Regions from separate parts of the Homo sapiens genome. Here regions 1, 2 and 4 are each linked to region 3. The links come from fine-mapping of genetic effects on gene expression. A gene starts in region 3. Each other region holds a variant in brackets. All regions are shown on one strand. Distances are between the middles of the regions. Region 1 has its middle 150 kb from the start of NUP210. Region 2 overlaps NUP210 (nucleoporin 210). Region 3 holds the start of HDAC11 (histone deacetylase 11). Region 4 has its middle 9.7 kb from the start of FBLN2.

Region 1 (5,144 bases), 210 kb before region 3:
CTCAGACCCTAAAATGGGTCTCAACAAATTTAAAAGGACTGAAATCACACAAAGTATGATCTCTGAACAAAACGGACTGAAACTAAGAGTCCCCTAAAAATGTCTAGATGACAGCTCTGATAGGGATATGCTTGGCTGATCCTTGCTCATACCACAACCTTCCCAACCACCCTTGCTTTGTTTTGCCTCAGTTCCCCCATATATACCATGGAGATAATAATGCTCCCCACTTCACAGAATCATGGCAAGTGCTTACAATAAATAGCCAGTCATCAAGGTTGCTATTATTGCTCATCAACAATGGAGGGGTGGCGGCAACCCCTCACATTCCATCCCTAGGTGAGAGACATTCATTCGTACAATATTACACTTTCAAGACACCTTTGTTCCCATTATTTGATGTGGTCCATCACAGCCCTGCAGGATCGTCTGGTGAAAGGGAAAGTTGGTGGTGGTGAAGCCCCAGTACGGGGGCATCTGTTGACTCCTTAGCCCAGAGACTGGCTCACAGTAGGTGCCAGGGAGGGCAAGCAGGCCAACCTAGGGGTGAGGGTCAAAGGGGATGGTCAGAGTCACCCCGCACACCCCTTTTAGGTGGCGGATTTTTACACATCTCGATGTCCGGCAACTGCTGAGCTGGGTAAGAGTAAAGCCTCACAGAAAGTAAAGACAGAGATGTGAGCATGTCATGGGCTGTGGGAGGGGGATGGAACTTTCCAGGCTCCTCCTTTTTTGTCGGGGAGGCCCTAATTCAATTTAATAAAATTAAGACTCCACAACTTTAAAACATGTGAAGAGGCTGCAGCGTTAAAGGGATTGAGATAACACATCGTACAAAGGGTTGGATTCAAAATCAGCAGCATTAACTATGCAGAGAAGTGGGTAGATAAGAGACATGTGCTGAAACCCAAGTCACCTGATTCTAAATTCCATGACTTTCTAAAATCACTTTCCTTCTCAACAGAGAAAGAAGAAACAATAATGATACAAGTGGCTCTGTGCACAGTTACATACATCAAGGATGTAATCCTTGCCACTCCTCTAGCAGGGAGGTTTTATAACCCCATTTTACAGGTGAGGAAGCTGAAGCACAGAGAGGCTCAGCCACAGGCCAGAGAAGACAAAGACAGGTGGTGCATGTGGAGGGAGCTGGGATTCAGGCTGCTGGCCTGGCCCCAGAGTCTGTGTCCTGGCTCCTGGCCACCGTGCTGCCCAAATACTCCACCGGGAGCCTCACCCAAGCCATCTAGAAGTCCTGGCCAGCCCAAGGGAAGTGAACATCTCTGCTTGGGCTGCTCCTCCCTCAAGGTGAAAGAGGGGAGTGGCCTGGGTGTGGGAAGCCAGAGGCAGAGTCCAGGGGTGTCGCCAACCACCTCACTCCCTGTTTCAAGAACTCCCCGTTTCAAGAACTCCCCATTCCAAGAACTGCTGCAGGCAGCCAAGATGGGCACGGCCCCTCCCATCTGGAGCCACTCCTTTGGTTCCACTCCTCTCTCTCCTTCCCATCTGAACTGGCGATTGTTGGGGGAAAAGAGAGGGTGGGGCCGTGTGCCTTCAGCCCCAGCCCACGTGCTCCTGCCCATCCCAGCAGCCTCTGCCCAGGATCCCAGCACCCAGCTCTGCAGCATCTCCTGAAGCCTCCCTCACCCTGGTACCCATGCCTGCCCCAGGGGCCAGAGATCCTGCCCAGACCTAAGTCCCATCACTTCCTCCTCTGCTCAACACCCTCCAGGGACTTCTGTCTCCCTTAGATCAAAGCCAAAGTCCCCAGTGGGCCCACATGGCCCTGCTGGCTCTGCCTCACCCCTCGCCCCTGCCCTGTTTGCCTCCACCCTCCTCTCTCATGCCCTCCCCCTCACTCTGCCCCATGCACACTGGTCCGCTCCCTGCACCTCAACCACGCCGCCAGGCACACTCCCCACTCAGGGCAACCCTAAGAGGGAGATCCAGTTGTCACTGTCCCCATAGCAGAGATGAAAAATCTGAGGCTCAGAGAGGTGCATTTCACATGCCGAGGGGGAGAAAGTACAAGCAAATCCCAAAGCCGGGACCCTCCCTCCAGTCCTGTCTTTGGGTTTTCCCAGGCTACCCCACCAGGTCCCATTCAGCCTCGGGCTGTTCATGGGCCCTGCAGCCCATCCGTGAATCTCATCCACAAACATGCCTGCCCCCGGAAGTGTCCCCAGAGGCTGTCCCCCAACACCACCAGACACGTGCTAAGGACTTCTCACCTGAGCGCTGAGGCCATCCAGGAAGCAGAGGATCCCACCCCGCACCTTGTCCTCGCAGGGCCAGCACTCCACAGGCAGCTACAAGTGACTTGCAAGGACCCTCCTGCCCTACCGGTCCCAGGACACCCTCTGGGCAGGCCCTGTCTTCTGCCCTTGGCAAGCTGTGCTCCTGCGGTTCCCACGGAGGGGGCGGGCTCAGGCCCCTTGGTTCTCCACGGGTGTGACGCTCTTCATGCAAGTGGTATGCAGAGCAAAGGACAGCTAAACCACCACAGGTGCTTCCAGCAAAAGCTGGGGCAAAGCCAGAAGAGGGGCCCCCATCCCAACCCTCCCCTGCGACCACATGTCCCAAGTGTGTCCTGCATGAATGAAGACGTGAACAGCAACTTTCTGGGAGCTCAGCAAGTGTTCATCTCAGCGGAGTGGGGAGGTCAGACCAACTCAGAGAGGAACACCCGGCACTGGCTGCTGGGTGTGCTGCATGGCTTAGAGGGCCCTCCCCAAGCACACTGGCACCCACTGCCCATAGCAGCCCTGCCAGCTGGGTGCAACCACTGTCAGCTGCTTTGCAGAGAAGGAACTTGGGCTGTCTCCAGGTGGGTGACAAAGCTACATTCATTCTGGCTCCTGAAGCCAAAAATCTGGGGAAGGGACCATGCCACATTTGGAAACGGCCCCCAATGTTTCCAAAACATCTACACAATGCAATGAACAGTTCTGAAGCAGCCCAGCGTGGTGGTGAACTGCACCAGCCCTGGAGGCAGACAGACCTGGGTGTGAATCCCGCCGCTGCCACTGGGTGACTGTGGGCAAACCACTTAACTTCTTTGAGCCTCAGGTTTCATATATGCGAAATGGGATGAGGACAGTTCACACTTGT[C/T]ACAGGGTTAGAGCATCAACAGAGACATGGAGAAGAATGTGCCCAGCAGGCAGCACCTAGAACGGGCTCGGTTATTGCTGTGGCCTCACTACAATCAACACATTCTAAGTTCAGGTGCAGAACGACAGTCTCTAACCCGTTCCTTTGTGGATCTCGCCTCATCCAAGAGGGAAAGCTGAACACTTCAAAATCAGGATTCAAGCTAGGCCCAGCTTGGAGGGCAGGGGCCAGTCTTGTCCACCAGCTCCCTAAAACTGATACCTGGGTTCTAAGAAAGGCAAGTGCCCTAGGCTGGTCTGTGCCCATCTGGGCCTCACCTGGCCCAGTTGCACCGACCTGTTACAACCAATGACAGCACCGCCCAGCCCCTCACACACCCCGGGCACAGACACACCACACATGCTGCTTCCCCTGCCTTGACACCATCCTCCTCCTCTCTCCTGCTCTTCAAGTCCCAGCTCAAAGGTACGTCCTCCAGGAAGCCTCTGCTGACACCCGTGGGTGGTCACTCGCTTCGTGCTCTGGGGCTGCACACCACTTGGCCCCCTTCCTCCGTGGCCTGATCCCTCTGTAATCTTCCAGGTACAGGTCTCCATCTCCTATTTGCATGATGTTTCCAAGTGGAGGCAGTGGGGGAGCGGCCCTAACCAAGGACAAGCAGCCCAGGAAGGGGTGTGAGTAGAAGAGGTGGCAGTCGGGTGCAGGCAGTGCAGGGCCCGGCTCCTGGGCCACAGCAGGCGCTCTACCGATGTGAGCTCCCCATCCACAGAGTTCCAGAACTCCAAGGACGGAGGGGCATGGAACATAGTAAATATTCCAAAACCTTCATTGCAGAATCCAGGGGGACAGTGTTCTGCCCCATACAGCTCTTGCAACTTTTCTATATGTTTGAACATTTTTGTAATAAAACATTGAGGGAAAACAATCCTCAAAAGCATTCTTTTTTTTTTTTTTTTTTTTTTTTTTGAGACAGAGTCTTGCTCTGTCACTCAGGCTGGAGTGCAATGGCGTGATCTCGGCTCACTGCAAGCTCTGCCTCCCAGGTTCACACCATTCTCCTGCCTCAGCCTCCCAAGTAGCTGGGACTACAGGCGCCTGCCACTGCGCCAGGCTAATTTTTTGTATTTTTAGTAGAGACGGGGTTTCACCGTGTCAGCCAGGATGGTCTCAATCTCCTGACCTCGTGATCCGCCCGCCTCGGCCTCCCAAAGTGCTGGGATTATAGGTGTGAGCCACTGCACCTGGCCTCCTTCAAAGCATTCTTGATGCCCTGGCTATTCCTCCCCTGGAGCCACCACCTAATGCGGGGCCACAGGCAACTCCTGTATCTGCTCTCCCTGCACGGAAGTGGCCTTCTCCATTTTCATGGGGAGAGACAGCAACTCAGAGAGGCTGGGGCTGTTACTTGGAAAGTCCAAGCAGCAGGGAAGTGGCTGAGGCAGGGCTGGGATCCTGCCAGCCTGCTACGGGGACAGGGCTAACTGTCCAGGAGCCACAGATGGGGGCCTGCAGGGTCCCCAGAGCAAGGCCAAGGCTGATGGGCTGGAGAAAGGCATTGGCAACCTCAAGGCAGCAGCCGTTTCCCGATGAAAACAGAAGCACCCAACGTTTGCCATAACTGGCCCGGTGCATCCTGCTGGAATATCCACCCCTCGGAGGGCAGGATTCAAACTCCCAAGGCCTTGCTACCTCAGAGCTTCAAGTCATTTGGTTGCAGCCTGGCCCGGGTCTGCCCTGGGTGGGGGCAGCACACTGGAGGCCGCTGAACTCGGACTGCCTCCTGGCCCCACCGCAGCCTCTGCTCCATTTCAATTAGGTCAATTCCCTCTCCCCTATTCCAGTTCTTGCCAAATGCCTGGCTGGCCTGTGTTGTTTTTTCTGCTGCTCTGTGGCAATTATACGGCTGACACCCTGACAAGCTCAGAATGGTGCACTTCCCAAGTTAGGCAAAGCATTGCTCCTCCTTAAAAAAAAAAAAAAAAAAAAAAAAAAAAAAACAGAAAACAAGACACAAAAGACCGGATCAGCTGTCA
Region 2 (5,144 bases), 140 kb before region 3:
ACTATAAGAAAAGCAACAGCATGAGCACCATGGTAAATGGCAACTGATACTTGATATCACTGTCAGGGAGAAAACAGGGAGTGGCGGGGCCTGTGGCAAACTGGAGAGTGCAGCTCTAATGGAGTCAAGGTTGCTTCTCATTGCCTGCTGATTTTGCTGTGGCAGACACCATATCTTTAGGACATGCTGCATCTTAGATTTTTACCTGGAATCTTCCTATCTTTACATGACAACAAGCTGTCTCAAAGGCCTGAGTGAGCCAAATAAAACACGTTTGTAGGCTGGATCCAGATTCTCTAGTTTCTGATTTACTCAAACTCTACCTGCTGTCAGATAGGGAAACAGAGGCACAGAGCTGCCAAGTGACCCAACTGAGGTTACAGAATTTGGAAGCTGCAAAACCCTGCCTTTAATTCCATGATAGGCTCCAGGACTTACTTCCTTTTAACAAAGAACATGCATTTGGTGAGTGTGGGGATGTGCATGTGTACCTCTGTGTTGTATGTATGTGTCTCTATGTATGTGTGTCTGTGTGTGCATGTGTGTCGTGTGTGTGTGCATGTGCAGGCAGGGGTGAGGGGTTGGCAGATCGGTGGGGGTTTTTTTGTGGGTGTTTCTTTCTTGAAAAGTTTGCTTCTTTGCCCCTGATCAGGGAGGTGCTTGGGTTAGACATAGTTTATTTCTTCTTGAGGCGGGGACTAGAAACTGTTTCTTTTCTTGGGACATATAAGGAACACTTTTTGTTTTTCTTTACAGCTTAGGAGCACCCAGGGGTTACTGAGGCCCAGAGGAGCAGAACGAGGCCCTTGAAGACAAAAATGCTCTTCAGAGCCAACTTGCCAACTCTCCACCTTGCAGAGGGGCCCAGAGGGGCAGGAACTCGCCCACAGCCCATCCTATAAGTAGCAGGGACAGGCTGGATACAGACACAGGGCTGCACCCCAGGCAGGAGAACCACTAGACGCAGTCCTGACCCCTGGCTCTGAACAAGGCGCCTCCCTCTCTGAGGCTGTTTTCCAAATGCAGACAGGGCACAGTCCCCAGGCCTCTTGAGGCCACCCCCAACTTACCCTGTGACCTTGACCCTCCCCGCCTCAGGGGCATCAGCAGGTGGCAGCCCCTGCAGCCCCTGCCCCGCAGGCTTCACCTGAGGACTGGAGGCAGCAATACTGAAAAACGTGCAAGGGCGCCCCAGCCTCTGTTGGGTGCTCTATGTGTGTTAAATAAACACAAACGATTAAATTATCAGCCACTCAGACACAGTGAGCCCCAAGCTCAGAATTCTTTGCTCTTTTGGCCACACATCAAGTGAGTTCCCACCTCCAGGCCTTTGCCAGCCCCTCCCATCCTGAAACATTACTCCTCTGTGAAGCCTTTGCTTGGCCCCACCTCTGGGCTCCCATAGCACCAATCACACCCGGATGTTTACCCCACTGCGATGGACCACTGTCATCCCCACGGACTGAGAGCTTCTCAGGTCTCTCAGCCCCTGCCCATGCAACATGTGGCCCCGAAGGAAGATTGGGCAGCTGGCACTTCCTCTCCCCCTTCCCTGTGGCCTTTCCACCTGCCTCCTACCTGGACTTGGATCTCATCCGAGAGTTCTCTGGCCAGGCCATACAGCTGCCCCGATGTGGGGTCCACAGCCTTGACCACCACCCTCAGCCCGGTCCGGCCTTTTACCCGGCCGAGCACGTTCATGGCAAAGTTGTACTGTGACGGGAGTCGGATCGACGCCTGGGAAGACATCAAACACGTTTTCAGGGGTAAGGCCCAGGCCCCTGTGTCCTCAAAAAGGCAGAGCCGGACAGTAGCCCCAGACCCCCCAGCCCCCCAGTCCTGGTAGCTGCTGGCCTGTTCTCAAGGGCTCTGCCTTCCTGCCTGGGTTGGGTCTGCTAACCCCAGAGCTGTGCAGACCCGGCTTCCCCAGCATGGGTGCCCGGGTCCTGCCCTGCCTGCATCGCACAACATGCACAGATGCATTTGGAAAACACTGGGCCCACCCACGTAAGCCAGGGGCCTTCATGACAGGATGTCCCTCAGACTTCAGTGCTTCTAGGTCACCCAGAGCGATGCTGGGTTTTGCAGTGTGTCCCTGCAGACTATTCTGTTTGGGGATATCTGCTAATAAGTCTCACTGTTTGTGTTCCATGGGAGCAATCTGGGGGAGCCCCCGGGCACCAGGGACAGGACTCTGTTCCCACTGGGTGGGGTCGGGGGGCATTCGTCCCACACTAGACAAGCTTCAGGCAGCCTTTAGGAAATCCTATCCCTGGGCTTTGGTCTCTTTCCAGGCCTCCATCCCCACTGTCCCTGAATCAGGCAGGGAGCGACCTTTCAAGCCACCCTCCACTTGGGTCCTGTGTGTCCAAGGCCCACCTGGGCTTGGGCCTAGAGTCACAGGGGCTGGTGCCCAGTACCATTTCCCCACTGGCTTGCTGGGCAACCCTGGGCAAGTCCCTTCCCGTTTCTGGCCTCAGTTAACACAGACAGACTTAGTAGTCTC[C/T]CTGGCACCTTCCAGCTCTGACATCTTAGGAGAAGCCAGGGCCCCTCGCTGGGCTAAGGGAAGGGGAATTTGGCCTCTGGGATGAACCAGGAGAAACCGAGGGCTGCCAGGCATCATCTCAGAAAATGGTCAGAAGCTGCAGACTCTGACCTCCCAGGACTTTTGTGACTTCCTCACACGGCTGCTTCTGTTGGGAGAGGCACCTACTCACCCCGTCTATGTGTTTAGCATTTGGGAGAAGGGAGTCCCGATGAGCCTCGGGAGAGGGAAGAAAGTGGGCGGGCCTCTCTAGGTGTGAGGGTGGGGACTTCCTGTGGGACAATGTGGCAGGAACCCTCCCTGCCACTCGGGGTGCTGGCCTGGGACAGGGGTGGGAGGTGAGCTCTGGAGGGGGTGGTTACCTACCTCGTGGTGCCGCCCTCGGAGGTCCAGGACGTCCCGCTTGGTGACAGACCAGTGGAAGGTCAGGCCTGGCACGGCATTGCCAAAGGAGAAAGGGTTCTGGTGGTTGGTGATGCCGGTGACATAGATGGGCATCTGCAGGGGAGAAGTCAGGCCCAGTGAGCAGTAGCTCCCAGCACTGGGAATGCCCCCAGAAGCTTTGCTGCCTCCTTCAAGCAGTGGGAGATGAACCCAATTCCTCCCCAACTAGAGAAGAGCATGGCACAGGTTTGGGAATTTTGATGAAATATCAAACGAGCAAACCAGAGGTGGGACTGTTTTCCCCATACTGTCCCTCCCCTGCAGCGGGCTGCACCTCTCCATGGCCAAGATACTCATTTCCGGAAGGAGTCCCTGGAGCTCTAGGAGGCCATGGGTCCCCCAGCAGCACAGCTCGTGCTGCCCCACAGTGCTGGTTCCTCCGGGCCCCTCTCTCCTAATCTAGCTGGGGTCCCTGCTCACAGGGCACGTGTGGGTGGGGTCCCTGGCTCCTTTAGTCTCTATTTGCTGTGTCGGCTTGAGGGCACAGGCGGAGGCAAGACGGCAAAAGGCCACAGCAGGTGTTGTGCCAGGCTGCCCAGTCCACTCCCACTGCTGCCACTTCCTAGCTGTGTGGCCCTGGGCACGGGTCTTAAGCTTTCTGTGTGTTCATTTGCTCATCTGCGACACGAAGATGGTTCTGACACCAGCCTCCCAGGGCTGCTATGAACACCAAATGGATTAATGTCCAAGACAGCACGGAGTTGAGTTAAGTGCCACAGTCACTGTGCTCCTGTTAGGCACCTGGTACTATTCCAGATGTGGGAAGGTGACAGGCCAGCAGGAAGCAGGCCTTCATCAGTGGCTACCAGAGAGCAATGGAGGGTGTCTCCCTGGGTGGGGACAGGTGGGAAGCAGGCCCTAGATACCCGGGCCAGGCAGATGGAGGAGGTGGAGAAGCACTCTAACTTGAGGACAGGGTCCCAGCAGTGGCTCTTCGGGAACCAGGATTCAGAGCCCAGGAGGTCCCCTCACCTGGGTGCCCGTCCTCATCCGCATGATGGGGGCGCGGATCCTCACGGCCCTTAGCAGCAGCACCTCCACCTGCACGAGGTCCTGGGGAAACAGGGTGGCACTTAGGTGTGGGGATGCAGTGCTGGCCAGGGATGTTTCAGGAAGGGACCCCTCAAGGGAAGCAGGCTGCGGCTCAGAGTCTGTGGCGAGAAGGCCCCTCAGGATGACCAGCACCATGCTCCTCTGCCGAGGGAGGCCTGGCTTTGTGAGTGGCTCTCCCCTCATGGGCCAGCCACTGCCTCTCCCAAGGCCCCGCAGGTCCCAACCCAGTCCCCTGAGGCTGCTGCCCTGTCTGATCCAGCTGTTCCAGGTCAGCACTGCAGACTTGGGGCCGGGGACTGGTGCCTGCTCTTCCTTAGGCCTGGCTGCCCTCAAGCAAAAGGTCTCCAGGCCCTCCCAACCCCAAATCCAGCCTGCCTGTCTCTGACTGAGCAGGGTACAGGGACGAATGCAGGAGCCCTGTAGAGTCTGATCAGAACTTATAACCTCCTTCATTCTGAACTCCACACTCCTATTAATCTGGCCAAAGACTAACTCTCCTGGCTTCTTCCTAGTGCTGCTGAGTCATGCTGAACTGAGGCTATTAAAACCCTTAGACTCTCTGACGTGCTCAGGCTGAGCCCATCTTGAGGCTCATGACTTGGGCTAATGCCTGGCACACAGTAAGTGCTTGAAAAGCACCCATTCCCCTCCTTTCACTCATCTTTCTGCTCAGTCTCTTCCTGCTAGTCCTGGCCCACCCCACGGCCTTGGGGTGCTGGTTGTGTGCTCTGGATTGGACAGATGGAACTGGAAGCATCTGACCAGAATCACATTCCAGGCATGGACAAGGCGCCGCAGGTGAAACCTCTGCCTGCCTGGGCTCAGAACATGCCTTTCAGATAGGGCTCGTGGTGCAGCCCCTCCACCTGCCAAGGACCACCAGGGCCTTTCCCCAGCACCTCCCCAACCTGCCAGATGGGGGACCTAGAAGGGAGGGTGCCCAGCAAGGTTAGACCACAAAGACAAGGAATACGCAGGGCCCTGTGCCCCTCTTGCTGAATTTCTAGCCAGCTGCCCTTTACCTACGCCCTCAGGAGAAAAATCAGCCAGCTCCTGAGGCTGCACTCCTTTTTAGAGAAAAAAAACCACAGAGTCTCCTGTG
Region 3 (5,144 bases):
TGGGATTTCGCCATGTTGGCCAGGCTGGTCTTGACCTCCTGACCTCAGGTGATCCGCCCATCTTGGCCTCCCAAAGTGCTGGGATTACAGGCGTGAGCCACCGCGCCCAGCCGTGCCTGTATTTTTCAAAAGAAGTGTTATATTTGGGACTTTCTTATTTGTTTTAAGTTGAAATATATTTCAATATTGCATGAAAGGGGAAAAACAGTTAAGTATACAATGTTCAATAAGTCAGTGTCTTGTTTCATTAAATGCCATTTAAAAATAAAATACATATGGTTAAAAAGTGAAAAAATGTATTTCTTCAAAGGGGCCTTCCCTGACCACTGTCCAAATCAGGGACCCCATTATTCTCTCTCTCACAGTCTCAGCCTATGCCTTTCACAGCAGTTACCACATTTTGTAATCACAATTTTCCTTCCTAGGTTAAGGCTTGTCTCTCCCACTAAACTATTAGCTTGACAAAGGCTTTCTGAACTCATCTGCTCTGTGCAGCTGTGTCCCCAGTGCTGTGTCTTAGTGAGCAGACACACTAGGATACTGCAACAAAGAGGCCCCCAAACACAGCAGCGTGCATAACACTTATTTCTTCCCCACGTGATAATGCGGCCGGTTGGCCCAGGCTTTCATGGTGGTTTGAAGGTGTTCACAAGCTCCAGGGCCTCCGCAGACCACTTAACTCTTTAGCTACCAGGACACAATTTTAAAAACCCTTGGCCAGGCATTGTGACTCATGCCTGTAATCCCAACACTTTGGAAGGCCAAGGTGGGAGGATCGCTTGAGCCCAGGAGTTAGACACCAGCCTTAGCAATATAGTGAGGCTGTGTCTCTTAAAAAATAATTTAAAAATTAAAAAAATTTAAAAACCCACTTATTCAGACCAATCCCACTCTCTTTGGCCTCAGCTTCAGGTCCAGGCTGCCCAGATCCTCATTCTCCCAACCAGAGGATCATCTGTGTGGCTTCCCAAACTACAGAGCAAGTTCCCTGAGGGGAAGTCGGTCTCTCACAAATGCCACAGGGCCACTGCATGCACTCTGTCACTTTATAAAATAGTACTTATTCCTTCTGTGGTTTACATCTGCCCACATCCCTGACCTTTGAGTGAGTTACTTCACCATTCTGTGCCTCAATTTCTTTATCTATAAAATGGGGATGACAATAGTTTGCCTCCTAGGACTGTCAGAAGAGTTCGACAAGCAAAAAGCATTTGGACTTCAACTTAGCACATGACAGATGGTCTCTGAATAATAATCAACATTATTGTCTCTTGATTCCCTGGACTTGCCCATGAAATCCAGAGAATGAAGTGCAACCAGAACTTCATTTTCTTCCTTTTTTTTTTTTTTGAGATGGAGTCTCACTCTTGTCGCCCAGGCTGGATTGCAATGGCGCGGCCTCACCGCAACCTCCCCTCCCCGGTTCAAGCGATTCTCCTGCCCCAGCCTCCCGAGTAGCTGGGATTACAGGCGCCCTTCATCACGCCCAGCTAATTTTTTGTATTTTTAGTAGAGACGGGGTTTCACCATGTTGGTCAGGATGGTCTCGAACTCCTGACCTCAGGTGATTCACCCGCCTCGGCCTCCCAAAGTGCTGGGATTACAGGCGTGAGCCACCGCACCCGGCCCAGTACTTCATTTTCAGATGCAGACATGAAGGACCAGAAGGCTGAAGCAACCTGCCCAAAGCCACTATGCTGGCGGGTGGCCGAGTTTGGGTTTAATCCAGGCCCGAACCTCAGTTCCCTCAAGATAAAGTTGGGGTGATTATGGCACCTTTCTCAGGATTAGGTTGTGAGGCTCAGATGCCATCATGCAATCATGGCAGGCACACGGGGGCCCCTCTTCAAACGTCTGTGCGCTTCCCTTGTGCCCCGCCCTGGCACACAGCCGCCCCCGCGGAGCCCAGGGATCCCAGCCCGGCAGTCCTCCGTCAGCTGCTTCTGTTTGGATGGCGGGGACGGCTGGGCCGACAGAGAGGCCCATTGTCTCCGTCCTCTGGGGCTCTATTGTTGGGGCCTCCTCCTGGGTTGCAGCCCCACGGACAACCCCAGCTGTCGCTTGGGCCTGGCTCAGCTTACCCCGGCGGTGAGGGTGCGGGTCGGGGACGGAGACGCGTGCACCCTGAAGACAGTAACTAGGCCTGCTCTACAGAGGGAAACGCAGGCTCTGAGAGCCTACATGTCTTCGCCGGGAGTGCTTGTCCCGGAGCTGCTCGCAGACTGGGCCGGGGGTGGGCTCGGGTCGGAGAGGTCACGGGGCTCCTTAGGTCACAGGCGGCAGGGCCAGAGAAACTCCCCCGCCCCTACGTTTAACTCGCGGAAACAAGGGCCCAGAGAGCCCAGACGCCAGCCCAAGGTCACACAGCGAAGCCCCGGCACAGCCCGCCGGGAACCTGTCGTTTCTAACCCCCAGCCTCTCGCCGTTTCTACCCAGCTTGGGAAGCGCAGGAACAGGACATACGGTGGTCGCGCCCCTTCCGCGAGGCCGGGGTGAAACCCGCTTGGCCCTCCCGCCAGGGGGCGGAGCTTCCGAACCAGGCGGGATTCCACCGGGTATTTGCCTGCGGAGGCGGGACTTCGGGCTTGATGGGCGTTGGGGGTGGCCTTCCTGCGGGCAGGCTCTCTGTGTCGCAACACTGGCGGGGCGGGCCAAATCGGCCAGAGCTCTGCCCCCAGAGGACGCGGCTAAGCCCGGGGGCGTGTCCTGGGCTGGCCCCACCCGCGCCCCGCCCCGCCCCGCCCGGTCGCGGAGCTGCGGCCAGCTTTGGGAGGGCCGGCCCCGGGATGTGAGTGCCGCGGGGCGAGGGCGGGGGTGGGCTCCCAGGGGTCCCGGTGGGCGGGCGCGCTAGGGCGAGGGCGGGGACGGCCGGGCGGGCGCGCCAGGTAAGGGCCCAGATTTGCTGGTGAGGGGTGAGGGACGCTCGGGACGGGTGTTTCCAGGCCCTCCCGGCGCGCCAGGCCAGCCCCGCGCCCCTGCTCGGTGGCCCGAGGGACGCGCGCCGGCCGCGGGCCTGGGCCCGGACCCGGAGCGGTCGGGCGATGTGCGCGGGTCTGACGTCTGCGCTGCCCAGCCCCCTGGCTACGCGGACGCCCCCACGGAGGCAGCCACTGGGGCGGATTTCTGTCTCTGGGTGACGACTGCCAGGGTGTGATGGGAAGGGTTAGCAGCGCAGCGGGGTCAGGGGATCCCCGCCCCCCGCCCTGGCTCAGGTTGGGTCCCGACTTGGGTTTCTGAGTGCTTACTGTGCTCAGCTCCTCAGTTGCATTCTCTGAGTCCTCACAACAGCCACACATTTTGCAGCCGAAGCCTTGTGCCACACAGCTGTGGGGGCATTTATTACGGTGCAGAGGTGATGCGCGGAGGCCTTGCAGCCAGACACACCTGAGTGCACGCCTGCTTCTCCACAGACCTGCACTGTGACCTTGGGCACACCTGGTCTGCTCTCTGAGCCTCTGGTGCGATTGTGGTGCCTACCCCCAGGGCTGCTGTGAGGACTGGATTGGAATTGGGTTCCGGGAAAGGCAGCCAGTTTAAGCAGCTGTTGTTGAGGGGCCCTTGTCTGCGGCTGAGGGGCTAGTGGTGCTGGGCAATGGCTGGTGGGTCAGTCCAGGCGGGCTCGGGAGGGAGCTGCTTTCTGCCGAGGCTGCCCCAGCTGTGCGTCTGTCTTTTTCCACACGGTAGGCTACACACAACCCAGCTGTACCAGCATGTGCCAGAGACACGCTGGCCAATCGTGTACTCGCCGCGCTACAACATCACCTTCATGGGCCTGGAGAAGCTGCATCCCTTTGATGCCGGAAAATGGGGCAAAGTGATCAATTTCCTAAAAGGTATGGAAGGTCCCCCTTGGACTCTCATCTGCTTCCTCCAACCCACCTGTCCTCTCCGTCCTCATCCCCAACATAAGCCTCAGGCTCTCTCCCATCTTCAGTTTCAGCCCTCGGATGGCCTTCCACCCATGCTTCCGCCCAAAATGATTTTTCCAACACAGACTCCTAATCACGATATGATGTCCCTGACTCAGACTCTCCCTGGCTCCCCATCCTGTGGGCCTAAGTCCTGCCTCTGCCCAAGAGGCCTAGTGGAAAGGTAGCTGATTACTGATGGGCACAGGGAAGGTGAAGCTTGGAGGAGTCCATTTCCTAAGGTTCAGAGAGTCAGGAGGTAGAGCACCTCCACCGCACCTCTCTTGATTACAGATGGGGGAAATTGTGTCCTAGAATGATTAGGAAACATGTGCACCCAATTCCAGTCCAGTCCTCACAGCAGCCCTCGGGGTAGGCACCACAATCGCAGCAGAGGCTCAGGAGCTCACTGTAACCTCCGCCTTTCAGGTTCAAACAATTTTTCTGCCTCAGCCTCCCAAGTAGCTGGAATTACAGGCGTGAGCCACCACACCCGGCCCTGATTTCTTAATATGGCACTCATTATAAGATTGTAAAAGCCCACCTGTAGACCGAACTGGGCACACTGGCTGCCTGCTTGTGACCTCTTTCCAGGGAAGGACACAGCTCCCATTAGTGGCTGAAGTAACACAGTTACAAGAGGCGGAGTTGGGTTTGGAACTCAGAGCTCCAGGCGCCCTACCTTTAGGGCTCATCCCCTTGAGCAAAATGATGCTTCGAAGAGCATATCGTTTTAACTGTGGTTTGTAATCAAGGGGCCTGATTTAGGTGGGAAATTCACTTAAACTTGTTTTAAAAGGAAACATTATGTCATCAAAATGGGAAAAGGCAGTTTCACTTGCCATAAATAGGTCATGGTAAAAAAGTAAATGCAATGAAAACAACAGTATAATTCAATCCAGGCTGGTTACTATTGCCTGCAGGCTGTGAGACTGATTAGTGGTTTGAACGGAAGATGAGCAAAGCACAGGCAGGTGTTGCGAGGCCATGCCACACTGAGCCTCCTGTAATATCATCAGAAGGTGGAGGGAGGCCGGGCGCAGTGGCTCGTGCCTGTAATCCCAGCACTCTGGGAGGCCAAGGCTAGGAGAACACTTGAGGCCGGGAGTTTGAGACCAGCTTGGGCAACATAGCAAGATCCTGTCTCTACAAAATAAAAATAAAAAACTTAGCTGGGGGTGGTGGTATGCACCTATAGTCCTAGCTACTTGAAATGCTGAGGCAGGAGGATCACTT
Region 4 (5,144 bases), 59 kb after region 3:
CCTGGGAGGAGGTGAGGTTTCAGTTAAGACCTGAAGGCTGACAAAGAAGCAGCCAGGAAAGAATGAGGTGCCCTGGGGGAGGGGCAGGGTGCTCCTGGCAGGTGGCACAGCACAAGCAGGAGCTGGGAGGTTGCAGAGAGCAGAGAGTGGGTAAGCCAGTGGAGGAAGCAGGAGTCGGGGGAGGGGAGACCGTGAGCGGAAACAGGAAACAGCTCCCATCAAAAACGGAGACACAGACTGGAGCCAAACCACTTTAGGACCTTGCCGGCCAGGCTGCCGAGTATGGGCTTGACTCCGAGGCCCACAGGGAGCCACGGAGGGCTTAAAATCAGGGAGTCCCATGGCCAGATTGTGCTTTAGAAATTAGTGATTGCAAAGAAGAAAGCAATGTTTTAAGGGGCAAAAGCCATGAGCAGAAATTTCACAAAAAAGAAAATGCAGATGGATGACGAACATGGCAAGATGTTCATCCTCATTAGTAACAAGGGACATGTGGACTAAAACCACACCAAGGTACCATTTCACACCTACTACACAGGCACACAAGAGTTGGTGAGGAGGTGGCACGCTTGGCAGCAACTGGTGGAAATACACATGGGCACAAACACTCTGCAGCAAGTATTTGGCATGAGCTGATGAGCCTAAATATGTGCATGTCCCATGACCTAGCTGTACGTCTGCCCTAAAGGACTCATACAAATGTCTACAAATGTCACAGGGAGACAGGCACGAGGCGGTTATAGCAGCATTATTTGTAACAGGAAAAACAAAACATGACAAAAACCAGAAAGCAATCTAAATATCCATAGACAGAGAATCATTCGGTATGCAAGAGCTGGTCAGTAGAATACTATACAGCACTGAAAAGGAATGAAGACCACCTGTAGGCACTGATGGATGCATCTCATCTCCTCAGTGCAATGAGGAACACTTAAAGTATGAGTCTCTTTATATCAAGTTCAAAAACAGCCCTAATTGAACAGATTAGGGGTGCATACAGAAGTGGGAACACTTTTAAGGAAACTCTGGGAGTTAGTGTGACTGGGAAGGGGCCCCAGAGAGGATTTCTGGGTCAAGAAGCCCATGCTTTTCACAGAACCCCTTTCTAGTGTTTGCACATGACCCGAATCAGCCCCTGGGCTCATGTCACATTCTCTCCTGCTGGCTAACATTTTTGCAATGGGTGTAACCTGCTTGTTTTATTATTAGTCACCAACCACAGGCGACTTGCTTTTCCATCAGACCCTCGCAGTGTGCTTGGCCTTCGGTTCCCAGCCTAGTGGGAGCCAACGACCCTATGAGATCTGGGTATTTCTGGGTATCTCTGGGCTCTCATTGGCTGGATCACAGGGGCTTCCACGACTTGACAGCCAATCACTGAGGAGCTTGATGAAGTCCCCTTCTGTCTGTTGAAAACTTTAGAGAGAACATATTTTAAAAATGTGTGCTAAATACATATCTGACAGTGTCTGAATTTAATGTCCAAGAAATTGACCTGAAACTCAAGGCTGCAAATTTACCCACCCTTTTGGGGCCATTCATGGATCGCTCTCCAGCATCTGGGAACAGCCCTCAGTTTCCACGTGGAGATTCCTCCCACCTGCTCAGGCCTCTGGACACATATATGACCTGGGCAGAGCCAATCAGCACAGCCCATCCCCACGGCAGTGACTGGTTCCAGGCCTGGGCACCTGAATTGAGTCCCTCCATTTGGGGAGAACCTTAAGACCAGTGCAAAAGTGCTGCATTCTAGCTGGACTTGAAGGGTTATGAGTTGAGTGACAATGGGGGAGAAACTTGCTCCTGGTAACATGTTTGAAGGACTGGATCAAGCTGTGCTTGAAGTCCACCCTTGTACTCTGTCGGTACTGAAGTCAATAGTTCCCTTCTTGACTTAGCCTCTTTGAGTCAAGTATACTGTGACTTGCAGCAGTAAGTCCAGACTGGCACCCTTTCCCAACTTGTCATTCACACCTCCTGAGCCAGAAACCTGTGTGTGTGTTTGTGTGTGTGCGTGTGTGTGTGAGCCTGCCCCTCCCTTTCTCTGGCTCCCAGCATCACACCAGTGTCCTCTCCCCACAGTGTCTCTCCAATCCTACCATTGCCCCCATGCCACCAGCCCTGTCTGAACCCCATCATCTCCCACCTGGACTCTTGCACCAGCCTCCTCCAGTGGCTTCCCACCGCTCTCAGAATAAACATGGAGCTTCTTCCCGTGCCCACAGGCTCCCCCGTGAGGCCTGACCCTGCCACCTCCTCGTCTCCCCAACTATCCCTTCAGTGGACTCCTCAGCTTCCGGATCCCTTTCCCAGAGCCCACTTAACTGTCCTTGAGCACTTCCTGTGTGCCAGGCCCTGTCTGATCCTTCCCACTGGTTAACTCATGGAGCCCTCCCAAAGCCTGGCGATGTAGGAGCTGCTGTTCCTATTTTATGGAAGAGGACAGGAAGCCCAAGTGGTTAGGAGCCTCCCGAGTCTGAGTTAGCACACAGCCAGGCAGCCGGGCTCCAGCTGACCACTGTCCGCACCACCTCCCCTGCAGCACTGCCTCAAGGCGCTTCTTATTGTGTGGGTGTGAGGTTGTTGGATTTATATCTATCTCCCACTGGAATGTGAGCTCCATGTGGTCAGGGGCGAGTCAGCCCTACTCATGGCCAGAGCCCTGGTAGGATGCACAGTACCTGGCACAGAGTGGGTGTCCTGGAAAGGTTTGTTGAGTAATATTAGCTAATACTTATTGAGCACTTACCACATGCAAACCACCTCCTAAGCACTCCTAAGCATATAACTCAGTCTTCACAACAGCATGCCGAGGTAGGCAGTTATTTTATAGTTGGGACCCTGAGACACAGAGAGGCAACTTCTCCCAGGTCCCATGTCTACTAAGCAGCAGAGCTGGGCTTCAAACCCAGGCAGCCTGGCTCCAGAGTCTGACCTGGTAACCACGTGCTATGTCATCCCTGTGTGGGCGGATGGCTGCACAGATGGCTGGATGGACACTGAAGCTATGTTCCTGCTGGGGGTCAGGGTGAGTGGAGATCAGGGGCATGGAGCCGAGACTGGG[C/T]CCATGTCCCGAACATGTCGGGAGGCCAGGGCCGACAGATGGAAATGAAGGATCAAGGCACACCTTGCGGGGGTCTTCTCTACTTCCAGGGGCTTGGCCAGCTGGCCAGTGTGGTCCAGAGGATGTGGGTCTCCCATCTGCTCCCTTATCAGGGCCCTGGTGAAGAGGCCTGGAGAAAGGAGGGGTTGAAGCACCTGGGGGAAAGCGGGAGGGATGGGAAGAGACCAGAGGGCAACTCAGTGAAGATACTCAGGACAGAGGGACAGACCTGCCCATGGCCAAGCAGCTCTGGACCTTCAGCTAGGAGGTCAAGGGACCCTGGAGTCAGAGTGTGTTGGCAGCTTAATACATCACCCGGAATAACTACTGCCAGTTTAGGTCACATGGCCTGAAGGCTGGAATGTGGAAAGTGAAAGTTCTCTATGGGCCGTGCAGACCACTCTAAGGACTTGTGCTCAGTCCCTGGAATAGTCCTGGAAGAGGGACGGCTGAATTGGCCCCAGGATACTAGAGCAGCTGGGGTGGCTCAGCCTGCAGAAGAGCAGCCTTGAGGCTTTGGCTGAGGAGAAGCAGACAGGCCAAGAGGACCAGAGGGTGGGGCCAGAACCCAGAAGGGGGTCACCTCTCTGTGCAAGGATGACTTTTCTCTCAACATCCAGAGTTGCTCAAGAAGAGAGGGTGTTGCCCTCCCACCCCATAGCTCAGTTCCTGGCTCCTTCCTCTGGGTTCAGCTGGGGCAGGGGCACCTGGGCTCTTTCCACCCAAGGAAGGGGGTTCCAGGCTCTGTCTTTCCTGGCATTCCAGTGGCCCATTGGGGCCCCAGGGCCTAAGGGCCGGATGAGGAAACACAGAGCCTGCTGGGCCGTGGCCCCAGGCACAGGCTCTGGGCTGAGAGGCCTAGAGAGAAGAGCCTGGGACTCCAGGGGGCTGTGTGACTCACTCATGCTGCCTGGGGGGACCCAAGCTCAGCTGCCTCTGAGCTGTCTCAGTTTTGTTATCTGTGAAGTGGGGACACCCAGTGTTTAACCTTCAGCTGGTGGAGGACATGCAAGGGAGGCAGCTGTGTCTGAGCTTCATAAACTGTATAATGCAGTGACGATTTCAATCACCATTTCTATCATTGGATTAGTTTCGGTCTGTTAAGAAGCCCAAAGTGATTTTGCCAAGCAAGACAGGATTAGATGTGCAAGGAAATTTTGCAGGGAGGGAGCAGGAGAAGGCAGAGAGAAGTTCAGAGGGCAGCACAATTCTGACACTTGTGCTGGGAGAAGGGGAAGAAGGACTGGGCAGGAGGAGTCTTGGAATGTGATGCAATTCCAAAAAGCTTCAGCCAGGATGATGATTGGGCCTGGGAGCTTTTCCAGCAGGTGAGTGCAAGGAGTCCTGGGTCTCTCTGGGATATTGCTGCATTCCCATTCCTAGCTCTGTGCTCTGTCGTTGGTTGGGAGCAGCTCACAGTGGCCTCAGTGCAAATGTGATGGCAGGTGTGGAGGAGCAGTCAGTGACCTATGCTGCAGAGATAAGTCGAGATCTGAGTGATACATCTTCATGGCCACCATAATCCTAATTATCCAAAACCCATCTATACCCAAGATGGGTTGGGTCAAGTCCTGCCAGGTAACCAGAGGTTACTTGGAGCCTCAGAGGCCAAAGTTTGTTATTTAAACAGAGATGTGTTTCCCTTCTTCACATTCCTAGAAGGGGAGGTTTCCAGGTATAACTGGAAATTCTTGCCCCATAACAAGGCAACCTGCTGGAGGACCAGCCATCAGCTGCATGGGACGGGCAGCCAGAGGGGCTTGGGGTTAGATTCAAGGGCAGCAATAAATGAAGGTTTCATGGATGGATGAAAAAAGAACTGGAATAGAATATAGGTAGCTTACTATTCTATTTCTATCTTGGAATAGAGGAAGGCTTTCCAAGCACAATCCCAAAACCATAGACCACAAAGAAAAATACTGGTAGGTCTGTCTACATCAAATTTTTAAAATTCTATGTGTAAAAAAGTATATAACCAAAGCTAAACTAGAGGAGTTTGCAGCATGTGCTTGGCAGACAATAGGTTGGCACTCCTGCTATA

Evidence for each region. PIP is the estimated chance that this variant, and not a neighbour inherited with it, causes the effect.
Region 1: its variant is the best candidate, but not a certain one, in a credible set for the expression of HDAC11 in whole blood (TOPMed, PIP 0.85).
Region 2: its variant is the best candidate, but not a certain one, in a credible set for the expression of HDAC11 in whole blood (TOPMed, PIP 0.52).
Region 4: its variant is the best candidate, but not a certain one, in a credible set for the expression of HDAC11 in cerebellar hemisphere (GTEx, PIP 0.87).

What each region holds. Positions count from the first base shown.
Region 1 is chr3:13,272,030-13,277,173 of GRCh38, forward strand. It overlaps a transcript of IQSEC1 not described here. Among named protein-coding and RNA genes, the nearest start is that of NUP210, 150 kb to the right of the region's middle. RefSeq lists an enhancer at 4,578-5,078 and a silencer at 5,105-5,144. The variant C/T (reference allele first, on the strand shown) is at 3,112.
Region 2 is chr3:13,333,876-13,339,019 of GRCh38, forward strand. It overlaps NUP210 (nucleoporin 210), which reads right to left. Exons shown (of 40, transcript NM_024923.4): 26 at 3,962-4,042; 27 at 2,912-3,043; 28 at 1,579-1,737. Among named protein-coding and RNA genes, the nearest start is that of NUP210, 84 kb to the right of the region's middle. The variant C/T (reference allele first, on the strand shown) is at 2,507.
Region 3 is chr3:13,477,562-13,482,705 of GRCh38, forward strand. It overlaps HDAC11 (histone deacetylase 11), which reads left to right and starts at 2,745. Exons shown (of 10, transcript NM_024827.4): 1 at 2,745-2,788; 2 at 3,685-3,833. The coding sequence starts at 2,787. HDAC11-AS1 (HDAC11 antisense RNA 1) reads right to left here and starts at 2,492. Exons shown (of 2, transcript NR_046690.1): 1 at 2,082-2,492. RefSeq lists enhancers at 2,101-2,160, 2,810-3,466 and a silencer at 2,621-3,110.
Region 4 is chr3:13,536,869-13,542,012 of GRCh38, forward strand. No RefSeq gene overlaps it. Among named protein-coding and RNA genes, the nearest start is that of FBLN2, 9.7 kb to the right of the region's middle. The variant C/T (reference allele first, on the strand shown) is at 3,065.